4 linked regions of the Homo sapiens genome follow. The protein of the gene in region 2 purifies or fractionates together with the protein of the main gene of each other region. This does not show direct contact. Each region holds a gene or a part of one and is shown on either strand. Other genes may lie near its edges. The genes, in order: CHM, RAB20, TFCP2 and RAP1GDS1.

What was found.
Region 1: the proteins of RAB20 (region 2) and CHM purify together in Homo sapiens (co-immunoprecipitation; 2 studies listed by BioGRID and IntAct, with this or other methods). This does not show direct contact.
Region 3: the proteins of RAB20 (region 2) and TFCP2 purify together in Homo sapiens (affinity purification with mass spectrometry; one large-scale study listed by BioGRID and IntAct). This does not show direct contact.
Region 4: the proteins of RAB20 (region 2) and RAP1GDS1 purify together in Homo sapiens (co-immunoprecipitation; 2 studies listed by BioGRID and IntAct, with this or other methods). This does not show direct contact.

The regions. Positions count from the first base shown.
Region 1 is NC_000023.11:86,037,129-86,041,698, forward strand, and holds part of CHM (rab proteins geranylgeranyltransferase component A 1), read right to left. Parts: intron 1-4,570. UniProt on the Homo sapiens protein: Substrate-binding subunit of the Rab geranylgeranyltransferase (GGTase) complex.
Region 2 is NC_000013.11:110,551,470-110,556,039, reverse strand, and holds part of RAB20 (ras-related protein Rab-20), read left to right. Parts: intron 1-4,570. UniProt on the Homo sapiens protein: The small GTPases Rab are key regulators of intracellular membrane trafficking, from the formation of transport vesicles to their fusion with membranes.
Region 3 is NC_000012.12:51,117,199-51,121,768, forward strand, and holds part of TFCP2 (alpha-globin transcription factor CP2), read right to left. Parts: intron 1,575-4,570; coding exon 1,423-1,574; intron 550-1,422; coding exon 473-549; intron 1-472.
Region 4 is NC_000004.12:98,263,897-98,268,466, reverse strand, and holds part of RAP1GDS1 (rap1 GTPase-GDP dissociation stimulator 1), read right to left. Parts: intron 1-4,570. UniProt on the Homo sapiens protein: Acts as a GEF (guanine nucleotide exchange factor) for the Rho family of small GTP-binding proteins (G proteins) that stimulates the dissociation of GDP to enable subsequent binding of GTP.

The sequences.
Region 1 (4,570 bases), on a different chromosome or scaffold from region 2:
TTTTTGAGACAGAGTTTCACTCTTGTCACCCAGGCTGGGGTACAGTGGCACAGTCTCGGCTCACTGCAACCTCCGCCTCCCGGGTTCAAGCGATTCTCCTGCCTCAGCTTCCCAAGGAGCTGGGATTACAGGCTCCTGCCACTACGCCTGGATAATTTTTGTATTTTTAGTACAGACAGGGTTTCACTGTGTTGGTTGGGCTGGTCTTGAACTCCTGACCTCAGGTGATCCACTTGCCTAGGCCTCCCAAAGTCCTGGAATTACAGGTGTGAGCCACTGTGCCCAGCCTAATTTTTACTTAATTTTCTTAACACAAATATTTCTATTGTAATTTAAGTGACCAAAATGATCTTTTCACAGCAAAGTATACCCCAGGCCAGTGCTCTTCAAACTTAACATAAAATTTAATTTGTGATAAGGAGAATAGTTTCTGTGTTCAGAACATATTTTACTAATGTGCCACATGACCTTTACTGCATTACTCATAAAACTGTGAGTCTAAAATAGATGATGAAAGAGAATAAGTATTCATTTCAAAAATGTTATAAAAATGATACAAAAAACCCTTCCCCTTTATATAAAATCCTATCATGAAAATCATTTTACAAAAAATAGAAATAAAAACTTTTCAGCTTTATAAACTATTTTTTTTAATGAGCGGGACCTTGGACCAAAAAAGGTATTATCATATCCATCCTATCAATTAAGATGCATGATGTATCCATTGTAAGCACTAACAGTTGTTGAAGACTGTAGGAAACAAAAGAATAGTCAACCAAAAGAAAAAAAGCTCCATAAACAGGACAATGAGTCCCATATTTGATCTTGAAAATTTAATTTGGAAGAACACTAAAAAAGACACAAAATGGCAAACCCCAGCACATGCACAAGTATTTCAGTGGGAAATTATGTACCTTGGGATTGTGAAAGGAAAACAAATCTCCCCAAAATCACTAAACCAAAAGGAAAAGTCAAGTTGGGAATTGTGTTGGGCAAACCTCTCTCCCTTTCTATTCCTAAATAAGATCACTACAAAGATTTTTAAAAAGCTACATACCTCCCTCACAATTTGCCCATAAGGAAATTCCTTGTGGACAACCAAAGGACAGGCAGAACTCAAAGTCATTCCTCTGTTCCCATGAGACAAATGCGTATCTGATGGCTTCCTCCGCCCTACTGTTTCACTACAGACTAAGGCATAAGTGACTATTCCTCATTTGTCTCTTAACTAACTATGACCCAGAAGCCTCCTCCCCACTTCGAGTTGTCTGGCCTTTCCTGATGGAACCAATGAATTATACATCTTACAAACGTTGATTAATGTTTCATGTCTCCCTAAAACATGTAAAATCAAGCTGTGCCCCTACCGCCTGGGGCACGTCATCAGGACCTGAGGCTGTGCCACAGGTGCATCCTTAACCTTGGTAAAATAAACTTTCTAAATTAATTTGGTAATCTAAATTATTTTGGTTTACAGGATCAATGAAGAATTCCTACTGAAGCAAATCATTTCTTAAAATGTAACTGTAATCTCTGATCCCATTTCTGGCCATTGCTTTAGTGGTTGATTCTCTCTTCAGTTTTAAGGGATAAACACAACCAGGTCATTCCGTTCACCTTCATCAAAAGAAGGTTTGCAAGCTGACACAGATGTCATGATGCTGTCAATAATAAGAAGCTGACATCATGAGGTTACTGCTGGAATCAGGATTTTAATGTCAACAATGATAACTCTCCAAAATAAAACAACTGCCAACCACAAACCCAGGTTAAAATAATCTCATCTTGATACTATGAGCTATTTTTTCAATTGAAAGATTCTAGCAAACTTAATCTAATACCTCAACCTTAGTCAGAAAAACTTTCGTCTTAACTGTTTCACCTACATCAAACTTAGCTGAGCCTCAGGCTTCACATTTGAAAAATGGAGATGATATAGTATCTACTGCAGGGTTACTGTGAAAATGAGACAATGCATTGTAGGGGCTTATCACCGTGCTTGGCATATAACAAATGTTAGACAATATTTTTCATGTGTTTGACAGTGTGTTGTAGGTACTAAAAACAATTTTCTAATTATCATTGATTTTGCTTACATAGCTTAAACCAAAGTAACACAGGTGTAGAAAATAAGGATTTGAACTCACAGCTCAGCATCTTCTTAATATGCCTCATATCCATGTGTAAAACTTTTTCTCTATACTTTAGCTTGTGTAAATTTTCTCATGATGATTTTAAATCCACATAAATAAGACTAGTTTAACAAATGTGCAAAGTCAGATCACAGAAACATGATTCAAAACATTTCAAAGCAATATAAAATGATTAAAACCACCATTAACTAGTAGCCATAATAACTCAATGAGAACACTGGCCTAGACCAAAAAAAAAAAAAAAAAAAAGACAGGTGAGAATACTCAAAAGAAAGAGTAGAAGTTAGTGAGTGACAGGGACAGGAGGCAGGGAAATTCTAGGCAGAAAAGGGCAGGTCCCTGAGAAAACCCCACCCTCAAGCCTGAAACCATGACGCAAAGTGAGAACTTATATCCCCATTTTCCCGTGCGAATGTTGCCTTTTCCGAAACCACTTACGGCCCACCCCACACCCCATCCTGTGTACATAAAAACCCCAGGCTCAGCCAGCAGAGAGAAGAGAAGCAGTTGGACATTAGAGACTACAGCTGGACATCAGAGAGAAGTGGCTCGACTTCAGAGGGACACCTTGACAGCGTAACTTCGAAGAAGAATCTGGCCAGAGACAGCTGGCATTCAGGGGAAGACTACCTTCCTGCCCTTTGCAGCTCCCCTTCCCACTAAGAGCCATCTCCATCAGCAATAAGATCCCCTACATTTACCATCCTTCAATTCATTCATGTGACCTCATTTCTCCTGGATGCCGGACAAGAGCTCGGGAACGATGAGTGTGGACACAAAAAGGCTGTCACACTTGCCCTTTGCCCTCACTGGTAGAAGGCAGCCGATTAACACAAAAAGGCAGAGGGCCCACTGAGCTGTTAACCCTTAAGCCGTCTGCGGACAGCAGAGCTAAAAGAGCACTGTAACATTCCCTCTGGAGCTTCAGGGGTTGCAGGCACCACCCCCGGAGATGCTACCACAGGGCCAGCACAGAGTTGACTCCTGCCAGTGCCCAAAAGCACTCGCCCCGGCTCCTGCACCCACTCAACTGCACATCCCCTCTTGTGAGGGGTGAAACACAGCAGGTCCGAGTGAGTGGAGTTCATTCCTCCTGGCACAAGAGCGGCAGGCTGACTCCAGCACTCATGTATTCCAGTTCCTGCCTTGTTCACTCACGTGCTCCCTCCTATGAGGAGTTGAAAGCGGTGGGCTGAGTAAACAGGGTGCTCCCTTCACAAGTCCCATGAAGGGGTCAGGAAAATATCCTGCTTCACCAGTACTTTTTAAAATGTGATAAAAACCAAATCAGTCAAGGAATACATTACCAACTTCAGCTCCTGATAAAATCCAGTATGAGATGAAACACTTATTTAAGCACCATACTGGCCAAGCTGCCTCTGGTCTCTTCTCCTGTCTGTTTGCAAACTGTTCTTTTCAAAAACACCCTCAATATGATAACATGCTAGCTCTCATAATCATGCTCTAAAAAAGCAGTATCTGTGATAAATTATCAACTCTTTTTACACCAAACCTTAAATGAAATTATTAGAAAAGCAAAAACAAAACATCAACCTTTCAATGTATCCCTATTTTGCTGGCCACAACTAAACGCCCCCAAAATGTTTCCAATGAGCACCAACAGTGATTTTTAGCCTATTTTACTTTTAAATATATTTATATACAGAACAGGCACAGACTAACTTTTTAGTTAAAGAATGCACTGAGACTGAATAGCAGATGATTTAGCATGAGTTAACAGGTCAATTATATGGAATTATAATTGTTTCTGTGCATTGGGATTTTATGTTAAACATGAGAATGTAATGGTGGGCTGCCATATTTGAATTTAATTACTGTAGCCTGTTATCCAAAACATCATGAAAACACTGGAGAAAATGAGAAAAATGACATGAGGCATGGGAGATGAAAATGATGCTGCAGAGGAAATTATGGCAACAGATGTGGCTCTCTCTGAGGTATTGGCTCAAATTCATGATTTACAGAGAAGGGTAAGCATCTCCCAGAGAGTCTTCTCCAGAGTTAGATAACTCTTTACTTTTCTAGGTATTGGAAGCAAACAAAAACATACTTTTCCATCAATAAATGCCTGAAGAAGTGCAAAGCATTTTTCAGAACAGCAAAATCTGCAGGCTATCTTTCACTCCTATAGCATCTCTTACGCTGACAACGGAGTGTTTCATACTATACCTCAAATAAGACCGATACTAAATCTGTTCCAAAAACTATGAGGAAAACAAATGATAAATAATGCAAGCTGGTGAACAAAAGAGAAGACAACAAAGAAAGGACTTTTGAAATACCATTTCACTCCTACTCACTATGTCATTCAGCTGATCAATATACTCTATGCTTTAAATTTTTTGAACCTGCCCTCCCCAAAAACATATGTGTGTATGTGTGTTTATGTATATATA
Region 2 (4,570 bases):
AGTTAACACTGGCAAGGTTCTCAGAACAGTGGCCAGAATGAGGAAGTACCATGTGAGTTTTGCTAAACAAACATTGTCTCCTGGCCTTGGGTGCCTGTCACTGAGGTTACACCAGCAGGCATGTTACAAAGGGAGGAGGGAGGCTCAGCTGGGCCCCTAGCAAACAAGTCTCTAATAAATGGGGAGGCCACGGCGAGAGGAGGGAAGGCTGGGGGCACTCGCGGTGGCCGTGGTAAAGAGTGAGAATAAAAGTCGCCATCTGCCACCCAAGGGCTCAGCAACCTGGGAGACCTGGCCATATTGAATTTCTTCCTTTGCTGTTTGGAGTCGAGCAGGGGGCCGGCTGATGACTGGTTTCACCCGCAGAAGGCACAGGCTGATTCACGTTTGCGCTTCCGTGGCGTCCTCTGCCCAAGCTGCGAGGAAACAGTTCCTCTGTCTGTCTCAACTAGAAGTCTGAGCTTTGGCATGAGCCTTGCAGACCCCAATGTTCTTGGTGCCAGAACCCAAGGACGGGTGGACGGCAAAGATGTGGAAGAGAGATGGGCCCAGCCTCTGGCCTCTTTAGAGGATGCTGATGGCTGAGCCACCTGAGAAGGGATCAGGGTGCAATGGCCCTGGAATCTGTGTGACAAAAGGCAGGACTGAGAAAATGGGGGACTCTGTGGTGTGGAATGGAGAGGACTGGAGCCCCAGTCCCAGGAAGTTTTTGAGTGTTGGAAGGTTGTCACGTGGAAGAGGAATTCAAGCCTCATTTGAGTTCTATTCCGGCGCGTTAGAGTAGTTGGAGGTTTGTGGTGGGAGAGCAGGTGTGGCCTGTGTGTAACAGGACGGGCTGCCTCCGAAACTCGTGCTTCCAACACTTACAGTAATTGCCACTGTATGTGGGTCCCTGCCACGTGCCAGGCTCTGTGCAGGCTCCATACTCCCGGGCTACATCCTTTTCACAAGGCTCCTCCTGGGAGGCGTCAACGTTGCCGTCCTACAGACTGGGAAGCAGCATCTTACAGAGGGGAGGCGGCTCCCACAGTCGCTCCCTGACACGGTGCCAGGGCCGCTCAGCTTCACAGCTTGGTCTTCCTGCCCTTGGGAACCCAAGGTCTGGATGCTGCTTGGCTCAGGACCTAGAGTACGGGTTTCTCAGTGGATCAGGTCCCTCCCTCCCAAGCCGAAATGCAAGGATTTTTCAAGGAAAGGCTCGTGATGGGTTTAGGATCTCAGGTTCTCCAGGCCCTCTCTGGCCTCAGAGGTGCTGTGAACCCAGGCTGGGCTCTGCAGCAAATGAAGATGCTGCTTCGCTCATGCAGGCTCTTTCCTAAGCCCCAGGCAAGATTCTGAGCAATTGGTTTAAGAGCTTTCTCTTTACCTGAACAACTGCAGTGCAGCCCAGGAGAGGATGCTGGAGTTTCTGGTTATGAAATCTTGGGCCTGGAGGAGGGAGAATGTAAGTGCTCGTTCCCGTGAAGTTAGCTAAGAGATTGGCCTGCATGCTGTGAACTGCTGTCTGTCTGAGGCAGAGCCCAGGTGGCTTTTGTGAAGGACAAAGGTGGCTTGTGGGTGAAGGTGCCGAATGAGAGGGAGAGTTCAGCTCAGAGGACCGCGAGCCCCCACCTCTCTCCTTCCAGTCCACACACAAACCTCAGCCCCCAGCCACATGACAGCTGCTCCTAACGGAATGGGGTGGAGGCTGTGTCATATGTGTTGCTGCTTCAGGTTGGAATTGTGATGATGCTGTGGGTGGGCCTGGAGAGCAGCTCTCTTTGGCAGGGACCCCATGGCTGGCTGACATTCGGCACTTTTGACTTGTGTGAGGACTGCACATTTTTTAAAAGCCTTGAGAGATTGGTGCAAAAGTGAATGCACAGCCTGCAAAACACGTGGAGCCAGGGGGATTTTATTTATTTATATAATTATTTAATTTTTTTGAGACAAGGTCTTGGTCTGTTGTCCAGGCTGGAGTGCAGTGGGGTAACCACAGCTCACTGTAACTTCAAACTCCCAGGCTCAAGCAATCCTCCCACCTCAGCCTCCTGAGTAGCTGGGACCACAGGTGTGCACCCTTATTTAAAAAAACAATTTTTGTTTTTGTAGAGACGGGGTCTTGCTACATTGCCCAAGCTGGCCTTGAACTCCTGGGCTAAAGTGATCTTCCTACCTTGGCCTCCCAAAGTGCTGGCATTACAGGCATGAGCCACTGCGCCCAGCCAGGAGTCAGATTTTAGCTGGCTTTCCTATTACATTAGTTTCTATTTTAGCCTCAGTCGGGAGAGGCTTCTGAGTGGTTTTTGAGGCCTTAATATGGTGACCCTCAGCCTGACAATTAGTGTTTGTGTGACTGGAGACCATTTGGTCAATCACATGGTCTTTCTACAGATCTGGGGCCTGACGCAGGCCTGCTGCTGGTTGTTGTAAATAAAGTTTTATTGGCACAGCCACATGCACATGCATGCACTTAAATGCATTGTCTATGGCTGCTTTCACCTTGTAATGGCAGAGTTGAGTCATTGCAACAGAGACCAGACAGCACCGAAAGCCAAACATATTTACTATCTGGCCCTTTGCGGAAAACATTTGCTGATCCCTGGTTGGGTTGTGTAAAGGAGACAATGCTTCTCTAAAAGTCTGTTCCCATAGGTATAGACGCTTCTAAAAAGGTTTAATATTCAGCAGTTGTAGGACACCAAGATTCAGTTCAACTCAACAAGCAGCTCTCAAGTTTCTACTGTGTGTGTGTACTGAGCTAGAGTGGAGTGAGGGTGGATTTAAGATGAACACCAGCTCCTACTGAACAAAAGATCTTGGAAGAAATGCCAGTTAAGGTTTGTATCTGGAAGGTCAACCTGCAAAACCCCAGGCACATGTGGGTCCACATGGTCACCTCTACTGAGGACTTCGAACAGGTGCCTTCTGGGTGCAAGGCCTCATTTGTAGAGTCCCTCTGCTTTATTGACCAGCAACAGTGGCCTGAATATGAATGTGGGTATTAAGATGGGGGAAAGAGAATTAATTGGTTGTCCTGGCCTCAGCAGGAGTGGACAAAGCGACATTATACTCGGAGATTGCAGAGCACAGTGGCCGCTTGCGAGCAGTGTGCGCTGGGAGGCTCGGCCCACAGCCTCCTGGAGTGGCGCCTGGGAATCCTGGGGTGCCAGGGGACCTTGCAGGCTCTTTAGTGCACTGTGGTTCAGGAGAAACTTAATTAAGGTCAACTGTGTTTGTTAACGAGCACCTGAGTCACACTGAATGCCTTTGGGAGACAATTTCATGCTTTGTTATCTTTAAGCTCTCTGGAGAAATAGAAATTTTTATTTATTTATTTATTTATTTATTTATTTATTTATTTATTTGAGATGGAGTCTCACTCTGTCCCCCAGGCTGGAGTGCAGTGGCATGGTCTTGGCTCACTGCAAGCTCCGCCTCCTGGGTTCACGCCATTCTCCTGCCTCAGCCTCCTGAGTAGCTGGGACTACAGGCGCCCGCCACCGCGCCCAGCTAATTTTTTGTATTTTTAGTAGAGACGGGGTTTCACTATATTAGCCAGGATGGTCTCGATCTCCTGACCTTGTGATCCACCCGCCTCAGCCTCCCAAAGTGCTGGGATTACAGGCGTGAGCCACTGCGCCTGGCCCTATTTATTTATTTTTAATTTTTTTTTTTTTTTGAGACAGAGTCTCACTCTGTTGCCCAGGCTGGAGTGCACTGGCACGATCTCGGCTCACTGCAACCTCTGCCTCCTGGGTTCAAGTGATTCTCCTGCCTCAGCTTCCCGAGTAGCTGGGATTATGGGTGCCCACCACCATGCCCGGCTAATTTTTGTATTTTTAGTAGAGACAGGGTTTCACCATGTTGGTCAGGCGAGTCTTGAACTCCTGACCTCAAGCAATCCACCCACCGTGGCCTCCCAAAGTGTTGGGATTACAGGCGTGAGCTACCGCGCCCGTCTTATTTATTTATTTATTTTTTGAGACAGGGTCGTCTTCTGTCACCCAGACTAGAATGCAATGCTGTGATCTTGGCTCACTGCAGCTTTGACCTCGTGGGCTCAAGCAGTCCTCCCACCTCTCAGCTGGGACTACAGCACCACCACACCCAGCTAATTTTTGTATTTTTTTTTTTTTTTTGTAGAGACAGGGGTCTCAGTATGTTGCCCAGGCTGGTCTTGAACTCCTGGGCTCAAGATATCGTCCCTGCTTGTTCTCTTCAAGTGCCGAGATTACAGGCATGAGCTACCATGCCTGGCTGAAAATTTATGATGCCAGATCAAATTGCCCTTCTTTCTGTATTGAGACTTCATATAACATCCCTCTCCAAGAAAAATAAATTTTGTACAAACATACACACACGTACAAACACACACGCCTAAACAGCTGTTGATTCTTAGGATAATGGATTCATCACTGCGACGACAGAGTTCCATGGTCCAGCTGGCCGCGAACGCTGGCCCAGGCAGGTTCCAGCTTCGTTTCAACCCTGGCTTCCCTGGTGCTGTCTCTTCTGCACCTCACTGAGGGGTCTTTCTGCCAGGCCTCCTGGATCTGGTCACCTTCCCTGCTCAGAGCCCCTCCAGCAC
Region 3 (4,570 bases), on a different chromosome or scaffold from region 2:
ATTAATTCCTCCCACCACCTTTTGACAAAACTCCTCTGTTTCAACTGTGCTGTGAATTATCAAAATCCTAACTGTTAATCTAGACTAAGAGAACTGCTCTTCATCAAAGTAGCTTCTGTTTTCCTTGCTATAAGACTAAGTATCAAAAAAGACACTGAGGCTTCTCTAAAGATCTCAAGGAGGTTACTTTACTCCACCCAAAAGAACTTCACTGAGCCAGGGGTGATTACCCTGGACAGGGAGTGGTAAGCGTTCTATTTCTGCAGCTCTGAAAAATTCATGTGAATACTGGGGCTTACTCTGACCCCAAAGAAATAACACATCAGCTTACTACTCTGCCAACAAATTACTGCAGGCAAGAGATACCATTAAGCCATTGGAAGCAAAAGAACATTAACAACAACAACAAAATTTAAAATCCCAAAAGGATTAGTAAAAAATATTGTACAGAAGAATGATTTATTCGTTTTACCTTCACCAATTTGCCATTAATTTCTGGAAGTTCTCCAAGTTTCCTATTGTCTAGCATTCGAATTTCATAAGACTGTCCTAGAAGAAAAAGTAATTACATATTATATTCACCACAAATTAACTTTGCTAGATTCGGAAAGAATAAAATTCAGTTGGTTGAATATACAACAGTATAATAATATTATTAGTATTAGTAACAACAATCAGAAGCCTTTACAAGATGCTCAGCACTGTGCTAAGTATTGTCACATTATCTCATTTAACTGATATACTTTTCTAAGGTATTATCAATCCCATTTTACAGACAAAGAAATTGAAACTTAAAAGAGTTTTAGCAACTTGTCCAAGGCCACACAATTGGTAAATAATAGAGCCAGGTAGAGTAATACTTCTCAGACAGTAACCAATGGGAGTGTCTAGGGAATATGATTAGGAAGAGGAAGCTGGACACTAAAAATGGACAGCTAAGCAAAAGAAGCTAGTAATAGATATCAAGTATGACATTAGAACTCAAATCTCTGAAGTAGGACTTCTAGTTTGATAGGCCACACTAGAAAGATCTAAGTTTTTACATATAAGTGTACCTAATAAAACATCATAAATGGCCGGGCACGGTGGCTCACGCCTGTAATCCCAGCACTTTGGGAGGCCAAGGCAGGCGGATCATGAGGTCAGGAGATCGAGACCATCCTGGCTAACACGATGAAACCCTATCTCTACTAAAAATACAAAAAAATTAGCCGGGTGTGGTGGCGGGTGCCTGTGGTCCCAGCTACTCAGGAGGCTGAGGCAGGAGAATGGTGTGAACCCGGGAGGCAGAGCTTGCAGTGAGCCAAGATGGCGCCACTACACTCCAGCCTGGGTGACGCCGTCTCAAAACAAACAAACAAACAAAAAAATCATAAATACAGTAGGTCTGCAATAGTACTAATGAATGAGGAAGCATCTAACCTTGATTGAGATACGTTAGGGTTTCATCATGGAGTTTCACTGCTGGAGAGGTAGCAGCACAAAGCACATATTGAAAAGGCAGGATTTTATTCTCATTATCAGGAGGCAAACTCGACTCTTCTTGCTTAAAAATGGGCAATGCAAGGACATCACTAAAATAAAACAAATGACTCACATTAATACCTGGCAATGGTGCAAACGCAGGTTTATTGCTGAATGATTTAACTGCAATGCTTTGGAAAGCCATAAACATTACTCACCTTGGTGGAGTTTCATCCCAAGAATTCCATTTAGATTACCTGCTGTGATATCCCCCTGACCACAACAGTGTGGGTGATGACAGATATTCACTGCTAAAACCACTAAGTGTTAAAGAGAATGTTTCTAGGAATCATAGACAGGGGTTCCTAAAAGGACTGTGGAAATTATAAACAGAGTTCTAAAATGTATAAATCTAGGACATTCAGTAACGTCTTCATTCTCAGAAAGGCAACAACTATACTATCTATATAACCATATCAGCTGATTTACTATAAGGACTAAAATAACTTCTACAATTCCTTAGAAGCCACGTGAAAAGGACAAATCAATAACGAGTATATATTTCAAGGTCATCTTACATTCTGTGGAATAACAACTAATATTGAGATGTTCCTACAAGCCATTTCCTCTAAGAAAAAGCTTTTTGTATCTATCAGTTTATCTAAACTTGCAAACCAAAGACACATACCCATCCTTTGTCAGTGGGAATGTAAAACCACACTCTCATCCTTTTGTCAGTAGCAATGTACAATGACATAAAACAGTTTAGGAAAAGGTTTGGCAGTTTTTTATAAAATTAAACATGCAGTCAGGCACAGTGGCTCATGCCTGTAATCCCAGCAATTTGGGAGGCCGAGGTGGGCGGATCACCTGAGGTCCGGAGGTGGAAACCCGCCTGACCAACATGGCGAAACCCTGTCTCTACTAAAAATACAAACCTAGCTGGGAGTGGTGGCGCATGCCTGTAATCCCAGCTACTCAAGAGGCTGAGGCAGGAGAACTGCTTGAACCCGGGAGGTGGAGGTTGTAGTGAGCCGAGATGGTGCCACTGCACTCCAGCCTGGGCAACAAAGGCGAAACTCCATCTCAAAAAAAAAAAATTAATTAAAAAAATTAAATTAAATTAACCATGCATCTATTGACCCAGCAATTCCACCCATTGGTACTTATCCAAGAAAAATGAAAATGTAAGTCCACCCAAGACTTGTTATAAATGTTCACAGCATAAAAGCAAAAACTAGGCCAGGTGCTCACGCCTGTAATCCCAGCACTTCGGGAGGCCGAGGCGGGTGGATCACCTGAGGTCAGGAGTTTGAGACCAGCCTGGCCAACATGGTGAAACCCTGTCTCTACCAAAATTACAAAAATTAGCTGGGTGTGGTGGCGCATGCCTGTGGTCCCAGATACTTGGGAGGCTGAGGCAGGAGAATCACTTGACCTCAGGAGGCAGAGGTGCAGTGAGCCGAGATCGTGGCACTGCACTCCAGCCTGGGCAACAAAGCAAGACTCTGTCTCAAAAAAAAAAAAAAAAAAAAAAAAGAACAACAACAACAACAAAAAAATAAAAACTGGAAAGAACCTAAATGTTCATGAGTAAGAGAACGGATGTACAAACCATGGTATATCCATACAATGGACTACTCAGTGAAACAAAGGAATGCAACACGGATGAATCTCACAGATATAATGCTCGACAAAAAAAGCCGGACACAAAGAATGTGTAATGCATGGTTCTGTTTATATGACAGTCTAAAACAGGCAGAGCCAAAGAGAACAATGGTTTCCTGGTGGGGCAGGGGATGACTTGGAAGGTATATAAGGGAACTTTGTAGGGAGATAAAAATGTATTATACTATGATAGGTCTGCTACGTGGTTGTAACTGTAACAGCTTATTTTTGCATCTCATTGTATATGAATTTTACCTAAAAAAAAAATTATTGATTAGAGGATGGGGAATAGGTAGAAGTAAAAATAATAAAAGAGGGCTAGGTGTGGTGGCTCACGGCTGTAATTCCAGCACTTTGGGAGGCCAAGGCAGGCAGATCACTTGAGGCCAGGAGTTCAAGACCAGCTTGGCCAACATGGTGAAACCCCATCTCTACTATTAATAAAAATACAAAAATTAGATGGGTGTGGAGACACACATCTGTAATCCCAGCTATGTCAGAGGCTGAGGCACGAGAATCACTTGAGCCGAGATTGTGCCACTGCACTCCAGCCTGGGCGACATAGCGAGACTGTGTCTCAAAAAAAAAAAAAAAAAAAAGGTAAAAAGAGTAGTAACATGTTAAAGCAAGGTGATGAGTACAAGAGGGTTCATCATATTATTCTGTTTACTTTGTATATGTTTGAAATTTTCCACAGTAAAGTTTTTTTTAAAAAAGAAAAAATATATATAGGCCACAGAGTACTTCTGGGTACAAAAGAAAAGGAACAGGGTACATGAAATAAAAGAAACAATTAAGATTCCCTTGGCTAGGCACGGTATGGCTCATGCCTGTAATCCCAGCACTTTGGGAGGCCAAGGGGGGCAGATCACTTGAGGTCAGGAGTTTGAGACCAGCCTGGCTAGCATGGTAAAACCCCGTCTCCACTAAAAGTACAAAAATTAGCCGGGCGCGTTGGCGCGCGCCTAGTCCCAGCTACTTGGGAGGCTGAGGCAGGAGAATTGCTTGAACCTGGGAGGTGGAGGTTGCAGTGAGCCAAGATCGTACCACTGCACTGAAGCCCGGGAGACAGAGCGAGACTCCATCTCAAAAGAAAAAAAAATATTCCCCCAAAAGATCAGAAGTCAGGAATCCAGTGATTTTTTTTTTTTTTTTAAGACAGTCTCACTCTGTCTCCCAGGCTTGAGTGCAGTGGCACGATCTCGGCTCACTGCAACCTCCACCTCCCGGGTTCAAGTGACTCTCCTGCCTCAGACTCCCAAGTAGCTGGGACTACATGCACACGCCACCACACCCGACTAACTTTTGTATTTTTAGTAGAGACGAGGTCTCACCATGTTGGCCAGGCTGGTCTCAAACTCCTGACCTCAAGTGATCTGCCCACCTCAGCCTCCCAAAGTACTATGATTATAGGCATGAGCCACCACACCCAGCCCAA
Region 4 (4,570 bases), on a different chromosome or scaffold from region 2:
CTGCTAGGACTTCTAGTACTATCTTAAATAGCAGTGGCAAGAGTGGGCATCCTTGTTTTTTTTCTCAATCTGAGATAAACTTTTCAGATTTTCACCATTAAGTATGATGTTAGCTATGGGCTTGTCATATAGGACCTTTACTATGTTTAGGCATATTCATTCTACACCAAATTTGTTGAGAGTTTTAAAAATGAAAGTATGTTGAATTTTGTCAAATGCTTTTTCTGCATCAACTGAGATGATCGTATGATTTTTGTTCTTCATTCTGTTAACGTGGTGTATCACATTTATTGATTTGTGTATGTTCAACCATTCTTGCATCCCAGGGATAAATCCCACTTGATCATGACGTATGATCCTCTTAATGTGATGAGACTGCAAATCAAACCACAATGAGACACCATTTCACACCAGTCAGAATGGCTATTATTAAAAAGTAAAAACAAACAAACAAAAAACAGATGCTGTAAGGCTGTGGAGAAAAGAGAATGTTTTTACACTGTTAGTGGAAATATAAATTAGTTCAGACACTGTGGAACGCAATTTGGAGACTTCTCGACGAACTTAAAACAGAACTACCATTTGACCCAGCCATCCCATTACTGGGTATATTTCCAGAGAAAAATAAATCATGCTACCAAAAAGGCACATGCTCTTGGATCTTCATCGCAGCACTATTCACAATAACAAAGACATGAAAACAACCCAGGTGCCTATCAATAGTGGATTGGATAAAGAAAATGTGACACATATATACCATGGAATACTATGCACCCACAAAAAAGAATGAAATCATGTCCTTTGCAGCAACATGGATGGAGCTGGAGGCCACTATCCTAAGCAAATTAACATAGAAACAAGAAATCCAAATACCACATGTTCTCATTTATAAGCGGAAGCTAAGCACTGGGTGTACATATGGACATAAAGATGGGAACAACAGATACTGGGGACTACTAGAGGGGGACAAATGGAGGGAGGCAAGGGCTGAAAAACTACCCACTGGGTACCATGCACACTACCTGGGTGATGGGATTATTCATACTCCAAACCCCTGGGTGATGGGATTATTCATACTCCAAAGTGTCACATAACATGCCCATGTAAAAAACATGCACATGTACCCTCTGAACCTAAACTAAAAGTTGAAATTATTTTAAAAAAGGAACTAATACCAATCCTCCTCAAACTCTTTCCAAACAATGAAGGGAAATACTTCCAAACTCATTTAATGAGGCCAGCATTACCCTGATACCAAAGCCAGACAATGATACTACAAGAAAAGAAACTACAAGCTAATATCCTTAATAAACATAAATAGAAAAATCCTCAACAAAATACTGGCAAACTGAACTCAACATCAACATGTATTTTAAATTAAACTTTTTCCTTATCAGTTATCCAAACATTTGGCTATCTAAAATTACATCAGGTTCCCAAAGGACTGAATCTTCCTCCTTCATTCCTCCTGATGTTCATGACTGGATATTAAAATTTAGGTAATTCTGATGGCTGTTGTTAGTGCCACCAATAACTCCAGAATTGCTATGTTCAATCTCAGGTTCAATCAGGAATTTCTGGAGAGCATCCACACTATTTCCCCAAAGTCACCTAGAAATTCCAAGATTCCACTATGAAAGCAAAATCATTTTGGTTCTTAAAAAGAGTTAAGGCTATTATAATTTTTCAAATAGTAGTAGTACAGACTTCAGAATATGACTACCAAGGATAGTGAATTCAACCTTTCTCCCATATGAAAAAAGACATATACAAAACAGATATAATGCCAACATAAGAAAAATTTTTAAATTTACCAAGCTAGCATCTATGCTTTTTTGAAATCATAAATTTTAGTAATTACCAGCTTTCAAAAATATTTTATCACCCTGCCTAGACTTGCAAAGATCAGGCAAAATTAGTATTTATTATTTAGCTATGAAAACCATTCCTGGACTTGGAAATACAGGCAAAATAAAATGACTATAAGTTTGATACCTATCTACAGAGAAAACTACAACTCCAGGAATTAAAAATATAATTAGAAGCATACCTATAATCTAAAGAAGTCTCAAATTCACAAAGTCTAAGAGTAAAAGTGATAAAACCATTCATCAGTAAAGAGTATTGTTTAGGCAAAATGCCATGCAAAATTATAAAATCATTCTAGACTCACTCTGCATGACAGACATTATAAAAATAAAAATTGTACTATACTAAGTCACAAAGACATTAAAAATGAAATGTCAGAGAAATGTGAGGCACTATGGTGAAATTAAAAATTATCCTTAGACATGAAAACAGCACATGTCCTTCCATGTAAAATGTAACATTAAAATAATTTTTTTAATTTGTAAATTAAAATACATTTAAAATTTTAAAATATTTTCTAAAATGTAATATCTGTCATGCAGAGTGAGTTAAAAATATTTTTAAAAATCTATGTTTTCTCACAGATCTTTAAACAAGGTGAGAAATACAGCATGACTATACCTAGTGAACTGTTTCCACTTATTATTCACTTAGCCTTTACAACTGACCTCCATATCTACTAAACCTCTTAAAGTGGCTTTTTAGAAAAATATACTGGGTAATATCCTAACCAAAGCACTTAGAGCCTGTTCTCAGTCCCTATCACCCTCCTGACTGTTCTGAAAAAACAGACCTTATTAACTATTCACTCTTTCTTAAAACCAACCATATACCAATTCTAGTCTTTCACTCTGACTTCTGTGTTTTTCAGTGTGAAATCATACCATTCCTTTTTCCCTAACTACGGAAAACTTAAGGAACCCCATTCCTCAAGATTCTTACCATGAACAATTTTCCTCTTTTTCTTTGTTGACTCTTGTCCTCTGATCTAACTTCAAATATCACCTCAGGATATTTGTGGATAACTTCCAGATCTCTAATTCAAATTGTACTCTCGAAAGTTAAAATAAATGTTTGTCAACTATTTTTTATCTAGTTTCAGTCAGTCAACACAATTTTTCTATGTAGCTACTATGTGCCAGACACTAGTGTTAGAAATGTATTCAAATCCTAATATGACAACGTCCTTGTTATCAAGGAGCAGAGACTAAAGGACAGACCAAAAAGTCTAATGCAATAGGTCCAAAATTGAGTATCTAAGTTTCCTCTTCCTGTTAACTGAATATGTATCAGGAGATTCTCGTATCCTCATTATCACCCAGGCTAAAACCTGTGACTCTCAATTCCATACTCAATGGGTTGCCAAGTAAATCCTATTCTTTATTTGCAATATTCTATTCCCGTTGCCATAACCTGGTTCAAGCCATTAAACATTTTCGTCCAAACTCCAACAACAATCTTCTGAAGTGTTCTGTAGTTTCTCATCTAATCGATCCTGCACTCAACTGACAAATTTTCCTATACCACAGATGTGATCCATCACTTAACTACATAAAAATGTTTAGTGGTCTCTCAATAGGTAAGTCAGATTAAAATTCTTCAGCTTGGCATTTTAGATCCTACATTATCTGGTCATTAGCTATTACTGTACTACTTTTTCATGTCTGTTACCCACTATTTCCTTACCTTTTGCTCTAGCCAAACAATGCTGTTTAATCATATCCTGGAAATTCATAAAATGTTTCCTATCTATCTTCATTTATGTCATTTCTCTTCCAACCCCAGACCAACTCCATTCTGATTAACAGTCTCATTTCTACCTTTAAGAAGTTTAACCCACCTTTGGTTCAAATAACACCATTTCTCTAAAACGTTCTCTCCATTCTCTGAATCTATAATATATGTAAAGGTCTTTTATATAACTTATACTTTTACTTCTATTATAATTTGTGTATGTGTCATATTGTTCCTGCTAAGATTATAAATGTGAAACATGAATATCTTTTTATCTTTGTCCTCCCAGTACACTGTAGTACAGTACACTGCACAGTTGATATCCAACAAACACTAAATGTATGTTGAATCTGAAATATGACATATACATAAAATAGTAGCTATGGCCATAAAGTTATATAGGACTTTTCTTTCACTCTCTTGTGTAGGAAATTATTGCCATGAGAATATATATATATATTTTTTTTGAGACAGAGTTTCCCTCTTGTTGCCCAGGCTGGAGTGCAATGGCATGATCTCGGCTCACTGCAAACTCCGCCTCCCGGGTTCAAGTGATTCTCCTGCCTCAGCCTCCCAAACAGCTGGGATTACAGGCGCCCGCCACCACACCCGGCTAATTGTTTTTTTGTATTTTTAGTAGAGACAGGGTTTTACCATGTTAGTCAGGCTGGTCTCCAACTCCTGACCTCAGGTGATCCGCCCGCCTCGGCCTCCCAAAGTGCGCGCCCGGCTGAGACTATCTTTAAAAATCAACCTTATTTATTTCTTGAGACAAATTAAAAAGCACTTCTCCCTCCCCTCATCATTAACCAGTATACCTTCTACCTTCTTATGTGTACATGAATTGTTATACTAACTTCCTTGGCCCAGATATAAAACTGTTCCCCAAGGTTTCAATTTTAAATTATCATATGTACCTACTGATCATACATGAAACTGCCTTACCATTGAAGAGAGTTTAGAAGGA